Linked DNA regions of Homo sapiens: region 2 is linked to region 1. Evidence: fine-mapped expression QTL. A gene starts in region 1. The other region holds a variant in brackets. All regions are shown on one strand. Distances are from middle to middle. Region 1 holds the start of ZNF215 (zinc finger protein 215). Region 2 overlaps ZNF214 (zinc finger protein 214).

What was found. PIP is the estimated chance that this variant, and not a neighbour inherited with it, causes the effect. A credible set is the group of variants that fine-mapping cannot tell apart.
Region 2: its variant is the best candidate, but not a certain one, in a credible set for the expression of ZNF215 in tibial nerve (GTEx, PIP 0.50).

Annotation. Positions count from the first base shown.
Region 1 is chr11:6,923,996-6,929,384 of GRCh38, forward strand. ZNF215 (zinc finger protein 215) reads left to right here and starts at 2,431. Exons shown (of 7, transcript NM_013250.4): 1 at 2,431-2,690; 2 at 3,667-3,812. LOC107984019 (a long non-coding RNA gene) reads right to left here. Exons shown (of 4, transcript XR_001748112.3): 2 at 1,822-3,167; 3 at 503-580.
Region 2 is chr11:6,995,545-7,000,933 of GRCh38, forward strand. It overlaps ZNF214 (zinc finger protein 214), which reads right to left. Exons shown (of 3, transcript NM_013249.4): 3 at 1,541-5,389. The coding sequence ends at 4,318. Among named protein-coding and RNA genes, the nearest start is that of ZNF214, 22 kb to the right of the region's middle. The variant T/G (reference allele first, on the strand shown) is at 3,348.

The DNA of each region.
Region 1 (5,389 bases):
CTCATTCCCATGGTCATATCTTAAATATTGGTGTTAATGATAACTGCCATCCCATCTGACCAAATTTCAAACACACTCCTGAGTAAAACAAAATGATTGCTATTTTAAAGCACTAAAGTTTGAAATGGTCTGTATGCAGCAATGGATTACTGACACACTGAGAATTATGTTCCCACTCATTCCACCAAAATAGATGCCAATGGGGCTTCTTCACAAAGCTGTCTGCATGAAACCACTACATACTAGGGAGGGAAGGGGAAAATAAAGACAAAAAATTCTAATGAAAACATACTTAATACATACACCTAGAAATCATCATAATGATGACGTATCAGTCAGGGCTTTTAGTTTCAAGCAACAGAAACTAAGCATGATTTAAGCTAAACGTAAAAATATTGAAATAGTATTCGAGTCATGTAGCCAGAACCACAGACCAAAATTGTACCACAGAATTGGCTCTATGAGGACAAGACTTCCATTCAGCACTAGAAGCATGATTTACCTGCCAACACCATCAGCACAGGACACTGCTGCCGGAGCTGCTGATTCTGGAAACTGAATATTGCTGCATCCATTGCCACTGTTGGAAAGAAAAAAAATGTCTTCTGACAAACACAACCTGAGTCAGGCGATCAAATTGAACACCAACAATGATAAGTCATGTTGATAGTATGTACCTGTGATATGATATAATAAAAATGGCACTCTATCTCTGTGACCTTCATCTCCAGTCTAATCATAGGAAAAATATCAGAAAACTCCCAATAGAGGGAGATCATACAAAATACTTGACCAGTACTCCTCAACACTGCCAAGGTTAGGAAACACAAGGAAAGTATGAGAAATCGTCACAGTCCAGAAGAGCCTAAAGAGACATGACAACTAAATGTAATGTGATATTCCAGTTGGGATCCTGCATCAGAGGAAAGAAAAAAGATAAAAACAAAACAAATAAACCAGCTAAAGAAGTCTGGTCCTTACCAGCCTGGACAACATGGCAAAAATCCATCTCTACAAAAAATAAATTTAAAAAAAAATTAGCCAGGCATGGTGGCAAGCACCTGTAGTTCCAGCTACTTGGGAGGCTGAGATGGGAGAATCACTTGAGCTCAGGGAGGTCCAGGCTGCAGTGAGCTGTCACACCACTGTACTCCAGCCTGGCAGCCTGGGTGACAGAGTGAGACCCAGTCAAAAAAAGAAGAAAGAAAGAAAAGAAGCAAGCAAGCAAGAGAGAAAAAGAAAGAAAGAAAGAAAGAAAGAAGAAAGAAAGGAAAGAAAGAAAGAGAAAGAAAGAAAAGAAAAGAAAAAAGCAAAGAAAATAAGAAATCTGAATAAAGTATTGTGGACTTAATGTATCAATGTTATTTTATTTTTTATTTTTATATTTTATTTTTATTTTCTTAGTTGTAACAAATATACCATAATAATTTAAGAGGGTAATAACAGGGAAAACTAGTTGTGGAGTAGAAGGTAACTCTGTATATTACCTTCTCAATTTTTCCAAAACTGTAAATCCAAAACTGCTCTAAAAAATAAGGTCTATTTAAAAAGAAATAAAAGAAACTATATGGTGTGTCCTTGTTTTTTTGTGTCACTAGCTGTTCAAAGTTGCCATCTTGTTTTACCTTAGTCCACTCCTGGCCTAGATATAAAGCTCTCTCTGGTTTAAGTTCTTTCACTCTGCTCCTACAGCACTGTCCACATGCCTCTAGGCAAGCACTAATCATATTATCATGTACTTAATGCCACCAAGCATTCTCTCCTTTGTGACACACACATCCCTTCCCTCTGTGTCTCCACACCCACCAGATTTCCTCCTACCTCTCAGGCTGATCCTCCTCTCTCTTTTTTGCAGGTCCGCCTTCCTGACTCAACCAATGGTGTTGGTGTTCCCTGGGCCAATTCCAGCCCATTTCCTTCTATTTTCTCTCTTCCTCTCTGTCCCTTTCTCTGCAGTCCTATTCCAATGGATAGCATCAATCACCATCTACCCAGATTGACCCAAATTTTACAGGTCTAGCCCCAGACATCTCTAAATTCCCAAATGCCTACATCCAAATGCCTAATTGACAATGCTTCTCAGATGCCACAAAGTACCTCAGTCTTAACAAGCCAAAACTGAACAACGAACTGCAAGCCCTCTCACTTCCATACAAAACTGAATGAATGAATCTGTGAACCAATAAACCAATAAAGACCATGTAAGAGACAATGTCTTGTCGAAATTGTCATTGTTTTTTGATTCCAGACAAATGGGGTGTGGGGAACAGAAAGGCGATTTGGACTAGTTTCCCCGGACGGGATGAGGCAGCGCCGGAAGTATGACGCTCATTTCTTTAAGCCACTAGAAGCTCACCGTGAGTCCATTCACAGGGCCAGAGTTCCAAGTGTGCGGCGTGGGCGGGGCCTGCAGAAAGGGACGGGGCCTGCAGAAAGGGACGGGGCTGGCAAAGGCCTGGTCTACCTCACCGATCCGGGTCGCGGGGGCTCCTAGGGGGTTCCTTCCACAGCTGGTGCGCGTGCGCAAGAGTGCGTCGAGGTTGTTCCGCGGCAATTTATGAAACTCGGAGCCGGCAGTGAGTTGAGGGTTCGGCGAGGTCAGGGATTCCTAGTTGCAGCGTGATTACCAACGCCAGCTCCCTTCACTGTCCAAGACAGCGATTCCGCGGCTCCTCTGAGAACTGGCGCTTGTGAGTGACTGAACGGGCCACTGGAGAGGAGCGGTGCTCACGGGTATCGTTCTCGTCAGCGGGCGGTGGGGACGCGGGGTCTTGGAATTGGGAATCACGCTTGAGGGCGTCCATGCGGAACGTGCAGCTTACCTCAGCTTGCTTGCAGTTACCCAGTTTCCACGCTGCCCTCCAAGGTCTGTGCCGGAAAACCTGGAGGAGGGCGCGAGCTGACGGGAGGGATGGAAACGTGGGCTGCGGAAGTAAGACAAGCGTTGAGAGCAGCGACAGAGGGCGAGGGGGTGGGCGGCGGGACGGCTGGGGTCAGGATCCAGCTCCGCTAAAGCAAGGATTTAACCACACTCCTGTCGCCTCTTCCACTCTGCAATAGGGGCAGTCTCCAGACGCGCAGAGTGGTTAGTATGTTATGATCAGCTGGTTTGGGAATGGCTGGTATTGATGCCTCATGGAAAAACCAAGCGTGACTGGATCAATCAACTGGGAAAGACAATGGAGTTTTAATTAATTCATATTGCCTTGTTTTCCCAGTCATTCCTGGCCACCTCCCTAAAAGATTAAAACCTCCAAGTATCGTACTTATTTTAAAATAATTCTTTCTCCATTTAACATAAATGACTTCTATTCAGTCACTTATTTGCAAACTGTTTTCTGTTCCTCTTTATCTAAGCTACTCTCGCCAGGTGGTTCTTACCTCAAGCAGCTGTCCTACCTACAACCTGTTTGATTAGAAATAACCCTCTTCACAGACAGTACCTTTTTTCCATAATTAGCAGCTGTTCGAGTTCCTTGCGGCCATAAAACCGTAGAACTGGTGCCACCTGGTTATATTAGTCTAACCATCCACTACAACTTCAGGTCCCTCCGTCACAGTGGTACTGGCTCCGTGTCTTAATCCTGAATCCCACCTTTATATCAGAGGCATCTATTCAGTACTTTAGAGTTTAACTGTTATATTTCCTGGCTTTGTATATTCCAGTGTTCATCATTTGCCACTTAAGCTACTTGCAGTCACGTCACACCTTGGATCTCTATCATCAAAACTATTCCACCTCGGAAATCTTACCTAAATGCAGCATGCCATCCTGAACGTCTCTCCCTGTCCTAGCTCTGTAACTGTTTACAGTGAGTAATTCATTAATTTGTGTTTTTCACCTACAAACCTCCCAGTATATTTGTTGCTTTTTTTTTATTTCCTGAGTTGGATATTTAATGCATCTCATTCTTGTTTAATTATATGTAAGGCTTTTCCATTGCCTATCAGGAGCTTCAGCTGTGCGCTTTAGATTTTGACGTACAATGTTTTTACTGTTTTTAGATACTTTGCAGTTGTCCTTTTGATTCTCTTTTATCTTTTTTTTTAGAAGCAAACATTTGAATTTTAAAGTAGGTGAAATTGTTTTTTCTATGTGGTGTTAATTTCTGGTTTTGCATTCTAGTAATAAATATGGTTTCCACTACTCTTGTTTACCATTTATCAAGGATTTTCTATTTGGTAGCCTAATAAATTGCTTTTGTAAACATTCCCTTAGGTGCTTGAATAGAAACTACATTTTATCTAGTTTTATTTATCTATTAGGCTAAGCATATTATTTATATCCACTATACTATTACTTTTTTGACTTTATCTGTCAGAGTCTGAGAAAGTTACCTAATATCCCATTTCTATTGTATCACTGTTGACTTCATTTCTTGTTTTCTGAGAATTTTGCCAAAAATGTTTCAAGTATGTTGTACATTTAATGAGTTATATTTCATTATGAGTTATAATCATTTAGTTTCCTCTAATGTATTTGTGCTTTTAATTCATTATAATTTTAATTCACTAAACTCTTGAATATTTTTTGTTTGCCTGGTATTTTTTAAAAATTCTTTTACATTTAGTTTTGGAGTTCTCGTTTCGGATGTCTTTTGAGTTTTATGTAGTTTGAGTTTAAATTTTTACCCGGTACATTTATTGTTGCAATTAACATCTCTGTTATTTTTACTTTTTAGTATAAAGCCTTTTCTGTTTTGTCTTTGACATATGGCCTGTGAGCTTTTATTTTTTCTTTCTCCATTTATGTTACTTTCAAAGTATCTGGGCCCATAGTTCATTTTTTTGTTGGACTAAATTATACTACTTCAGGACTATTCCACCAGTCATATTTAAGAGCTCTCTCTTGGCTGGTGGCTCAAAAGTGGAGCTAATGAGGCCAGATCAGGAGGGTCGTGGATGTCAACAGTTGTGGCGGGTTTTCAGTCTGTTGTATTGACGGTGGGCCTTGGCAGCTGCGAATGAGGAGAAAGATGGTCTTTTGTTATGAGTTTGGGGAGATGTCAAGGAGTACTCCAGAGGGATTCATTACAGGAAGCACTTGTTTCAGGGCAACTGGAAGCAATTTTCTATCCCGCGAGACCCAGGAATAGCCCATGAAAGGCACCATTACCCTTTTCCTCCCCTGGCCATGACAACCTAGATGGGATCTTTCAAGCCAGAAGGCACCTGCCTCTGTGGCTTTCCACTTGCTGTGGGAAATCCTCTGGGGAGCTTGCATTCACAGAGAAAAAAAGTTTCTAAATAAATTGGATAAAGTTACAGGAAAATAGAGAAGACAGTACAACAGAGTGTCCATATACCCCTCCACTAATTTTTCCTATTAGTAACATTTTGTATTAGTATAGAACATTTCTTACAATTAATAATACTACATTAACTAAAG
Region 2 (5,389 bases), 72 kb after region 1:
GGTCAAAATATATCCAATATTTGATTATTTCTGTCACCTCCACTGTTAACACTATGTTAACACCTTATCTCTTTTAGGGGTAACTGCAATACCTCCTAATTGGAATCCCTGCTTTGGCTCTAGCCTCTACTTTGTCAGTTCTTAACACAGCATTCAGAATAAGCCTGTTTAAATTTGTTAGATCACTTAAAACCCTCCAGTGGCTTTTTACTTCACTTAGAATAAAAGACAAAGCCTTTACAATTACTTACAAGGCCCTATTACCTTTAATTTCCCTCTGTTTTCCTCCTCCCTTACAGTGCTGCAGTACATTCCAGGTCCATTCCTAGCCTCAGACCCTTTGCACTTGCTCTACCCTCTACACAGAATTCTTTTTCCATGGAGAGCTCCATGGCTCACTTGCTCCCTCACTTGTTTTAGTGAGATAACATCCTGGGATCTGAGTATGTGCATATGAGCTTCTACCATATGATGTTACATAACCCTGTTCTTTACAAGCCCCCTAATAGTATGAAACTCTATTTCCATAGAACATATTCCTGTAGAATTACTGTAGCAAAGAGTAACAGCAATTTTAAGGCTCAGGATTGGCCAAATTGTTTTTCCAAAAAGTCGTTATCAATTTACCCTCAACATAAGCATAAGTATACATCACTCCATACTCTTGCTGAAAATGGCTATTGTCATTTTTGTTAATAAAAGTGATACTGCTTTGCTTTAATCTGTTTATGTTCTTCGTCAAAATTTTAAATTAGGTGTCCATTTAATTAAAAAGAGTTTGTACTGTCACAATCATGGCAAATATTTCTCCTATTTTTGTCTGACTTATATGTTTTTCACCCAGTTTAAAAATTTTTATGTGGTCAAATTGTGTATTTTTTCTGAGTGTTTAAAAATCCCTCTAGAGAATTTTAAATATTTTATAGTGGAACCTCCTTTAAAAAAACAAAATCAAGTCATTTTTGCATATGAAGAGATAAAATGTGGCTACACTTGCAGTTCTTTTGCTTCTGAAGATACTAGTCTTCATGAAACCACATGGAGGTCCATGGAACACAGCTTGAAAACCTGTATTCAATCAATGTTTTATTCTGATATAGGTCATGAAATGAAAGTCTTTTTTATTAAAGAGTTAAATAATGATCTCAGCACAATTTACTGAATAATCCTCCTATTCGCAGATCTTTATCATGTGTGAACTCTATAAGCATATGCACTGTATGTTCAAATACACATATATAATCCATACACTGGTATATTTCTAAGCTATTTAGTGACTTAGAATCCTAACTTTTTTTTTCAAATATACAATTAAATTCTCCATTATTACAACTTCATATACCAATATACAATTTATTATATGTTAGGGCAATATCATTAATCTTTCTTACAATTATCTTTGCTCTTCTCCAATGTCTATTTTCCTTAAAAGACTAGAACATCTTTATCTCAAATTCATTGGGATTTTCATGAGATCTGAAACAAATATATAAATTAGGAACATTCCCTTAAGGAAAATTAAGACTCCTCTAGTCAAGTCCTCTTTTATATTTCCCCGTTTTTTATTATTTTCATTCTGCATTTTTGTAAATTAAAAACCAGATTTTTTGACAATTACATTTCCTGAATATTCCAAGAATTTAGAAAACTAATGATTTTGTATTTTTGCCCAACTTAATGAGTTTAAATTAGTGCACTTTTCACCTTTAAAAACATATTGTAGGTACTCCTTTATGTTTGTCTAATAAACCTTCACCTGGTCTCACATTTAAGCAATATCACATTTTCATCTGTTATAGCACATAATTAGAAATTTTTAACCCAGTGTTTTCAACATTTTAAAATGAAGCATTGAACGTGTTTTGATACATTTGGCTTTAATCATCTTGATCCGTTTATTTTAATATTTTAGGCCAACTTCTTGGGGATTTTTTTGGTAGTCATTGCTACAGAGACTGAATAATTTTTGCTTTTATCTTCTCCCATTTTGAAAGGTATATGCACTTTTTTTAGTTTTATTAAGTTGTAATTTTAGGTTTGTAAAAAAAAAAAAAAAAGGCCTTTCTTAAATTGTCATTCAAAAAGAAAATGTTATTATGAGTCCCTGCTATTTAAGATCAGAAATGTGGCACTTATGGTCTCTCTCCAGTTGCCGGATGTAGCAACTAAAAACAGAAATGACCAGTTAAATTTGAATTTCAAATGTATGAAATTTTAGTGTAAGTCCCATGCAATATTTGGGACACCCTTATACTAAAACAATTATTCTTTGCTTATATGAAATTCAAACTTAACTGGGTGTCCTGACAACCTTACTCTCCTACCCAGACTCAGCATTTGTACACTTTACACTCAGCATTTGTATATTTTTATTGCACATTTAATTTTTTGAAGTTTTGGAAACTATCCAGACAACTGCATATCTAATTGATTTCAGTGCTTATCACTAGTCCTTTTATACCATGATTTCCACATTCACAAACTCTCTTTAAGGCACATATACGCTACACTGTTTTCTTGCTTATCAAAAATATTTGTTTCCTGCACATATGAAAGACACTTTTGTTATAAAACTGGTGATAATAAACTTTTCAAATCTCAAAATTCTGAACGTGCTGCTCCATTGCCTTCTGAGTTACTGTTGCAGAGCTCTGTATCCACCCTCCCTTTCTGGTTTTGCAGATAACCAGAATTTTTCTTTCTGCATGCTTTTAATTGCTTCTTTCTAACCTGTTTCTAAGGTTGCTTTAATACTGGTTTTGCCTAAAACTTAGTGACCATATACTTTTAACTCAGAGAAAGTTTCTTAATGTCTTTGATCATTGATTCTATGCCAAATGTTCTTTCACCTTCCTTAGAGACACCTTTAATTCTCACACTGGACCTCCATCCTCTGATATTCATATCTGTTCTTTCTTAGTTTCCATCTCATTATCCTTTTCAGATACATTTAAGATCAGATCAAGTTTATCTATTAACTATCAATTATTTTATATTCTTCAGTGTTACTTTTTATTGCATTTATTTTGATACAGTATTTCAGAGCTCCCTGAAGTCCTTCTTTGTTGTATCTATTTCTCTTTTCACTTTAGATACTCTTCTCTACTTGTATATTTCTACTCTATCTTTACTGAGTTCAGATTCTCTGTTATGCCACTAAGGACACCAACATTTCTGGAAATTTCCTCTGAAGCCTGCAGCAGCTAATTTTCAGGGCAATAAGTTTCCAGGTCTTTAGGATGATATTCTTTTCTTCAGTATTGCAATTCCCTCTAATTTTCCTAAACATGTCCACTTTTTTTTCTCTTGGTATTACTTCAGCATATTTGTGTATCAATAATTAAGAC[T/G]GTGTATTCCGACTAACTCTATTCTGAGATAATGGCCAAACTCTCTTTTTACATAATTAGCTTCAGGGTTCATCGTTGCACAGAGTTCTGAGTTCAATGCTGTCCTTGCAGATATTTCTCTATTACCACTCTGTTCTACTGAGATTAAATAAAATTCTACTGCTTGGATCTCTAATTCCGAACCAATGGAGTATCTTCCATTTCTAGCACTTTTGTCCATACCCTTCACACCTTAGAGAAAATTCTGTACTTCTTGTTGTTTGGTATCTGAACCTATTATTAAGCGTGGAAAACCGGAAAGGGAAGGGATGAGTGCACTGTAGTCACCTCAAAGTGAAGCACCCCTGCAACAGAAGGATGGTCCCTGGGTTTTCTGGTTGACAGAGATAACAACTCAGATACACTGTCTCAGACACAATGTCATACAATGCTTTCCTATCTTTTATTAGGTGGCTTTTGTCCATAAACAATTGAATTCTACCGGCCAAAACTGAGTTTTAAGTTCTATGTGTTTCCATCTTTTCTGTTACTTCCTAGGGAGTTTTTAGGGGAGTTAAGAGATGTCGTTTAACAGTTGGCCAACCAGTTTCAATTCAAACCAAAATTTAAGTAAATATTTTGAAGACAGTGAAAATACAAAATTGAACACACAATTTCATGCACATTAAAATGCACAGAAAAAAAGACTAGAATGAAATAGAATGAAGAGTTTTCTCCTTAAATGTTTAATATATTTATGACTGTATTATATTTATAGTAGGTAAAGAAAAATACACTATAATTTTAAATATATAGGGTTTTTTCTAAAGATCTCCTTTTGAAGCAAATAATTCTTAGTGGGAGATAGGGGAAACTATAAATGTTGCTTGGGATTACTTGTGTTATTTATAAGATTTCCTTAACAGCAGGATTTATAGGGTTTAAAGGTTAGGTAAACTTTGATTAAAGCTGTTAACTAAATGAACAATATTTATAAGTTTCCTCTTCTATGATTATTGTGAAGATGTGAATTATGATCAAATCCCTTATAATATTCACGGCATTTGTAAGGTTTCTCTCCTGCATGGACTCTTTGATGAATTCGAAGAGCTGAGCTATGACTGAAACCTTTACCACACTTAGCACATTGATAAGGCTTCTCTCCTGTATGGACCCTCTGATGAATGTGAAGATTAGAACTGTGACTAAAACCCTTTCCACAATCATGACATTTATAGGGCTTTTCTCCTGTATGGACTCTCTGATGAATGAGAAGATGTGAACGCTGACTGAATCCCTTGCCACACTCTTCACATTTGTAGGGTTTCTCTCCAGTATGTACTCTTTGATGAGTGTGAAGCTTTGAACTCTTACTGAAGCCCTTCCCACATTCAGGACAAGTATAGGGTTTCTCCCCTGTATGGACTCTCTGATGAATGCGAAGATCTGAGCTGTGACTAAAGTCCTTTCCACAGTCATCACATTTATAAGGTTTCTCTCCTGTATGCACTCTCTGATGAATTTGAAGATTTGAGCGCTGGGTAAAGCCTTTACCACAGTCTTCACATTTATAAGACTTCTCTCCTGTGTGTACTAACTGATGAATTCGAAGATTTGAGCTCTGGCTGAAACCCTTACCACACTCATCACACTTATATGGTTTTTCTCCTGTGTGGACTCTCTGATGAACATGAAGTACTGAACTCCGATTAAAACTCTTACCACACTGATTACATTTAAAAGGCTTCTCTCCTATGTGAAGTCTCTGGTGAATGTGAAGTAATGAATTTCTACTGAGGTCTTTATCACACTCAATTTTATAGAATTTCTCTTCTGTGTGGACTCTTTGATGATTGTGAAGACTAGAGATCTGGCTGAAGCTCTTACCACATGCATTACAGCTATAAGGTACCTCCCCTATGTGAACTCTCTGATGAAAGTGAACTCCGGAGCTCTGATGAAAGTTACCGTCAACTTCATCACATCCGTACAGCTTCTTACCTATGTGGTTTCTTGGATGTCTATACAAGTCTGATCTCTGAGAGAAGCATGCTTTACAGATG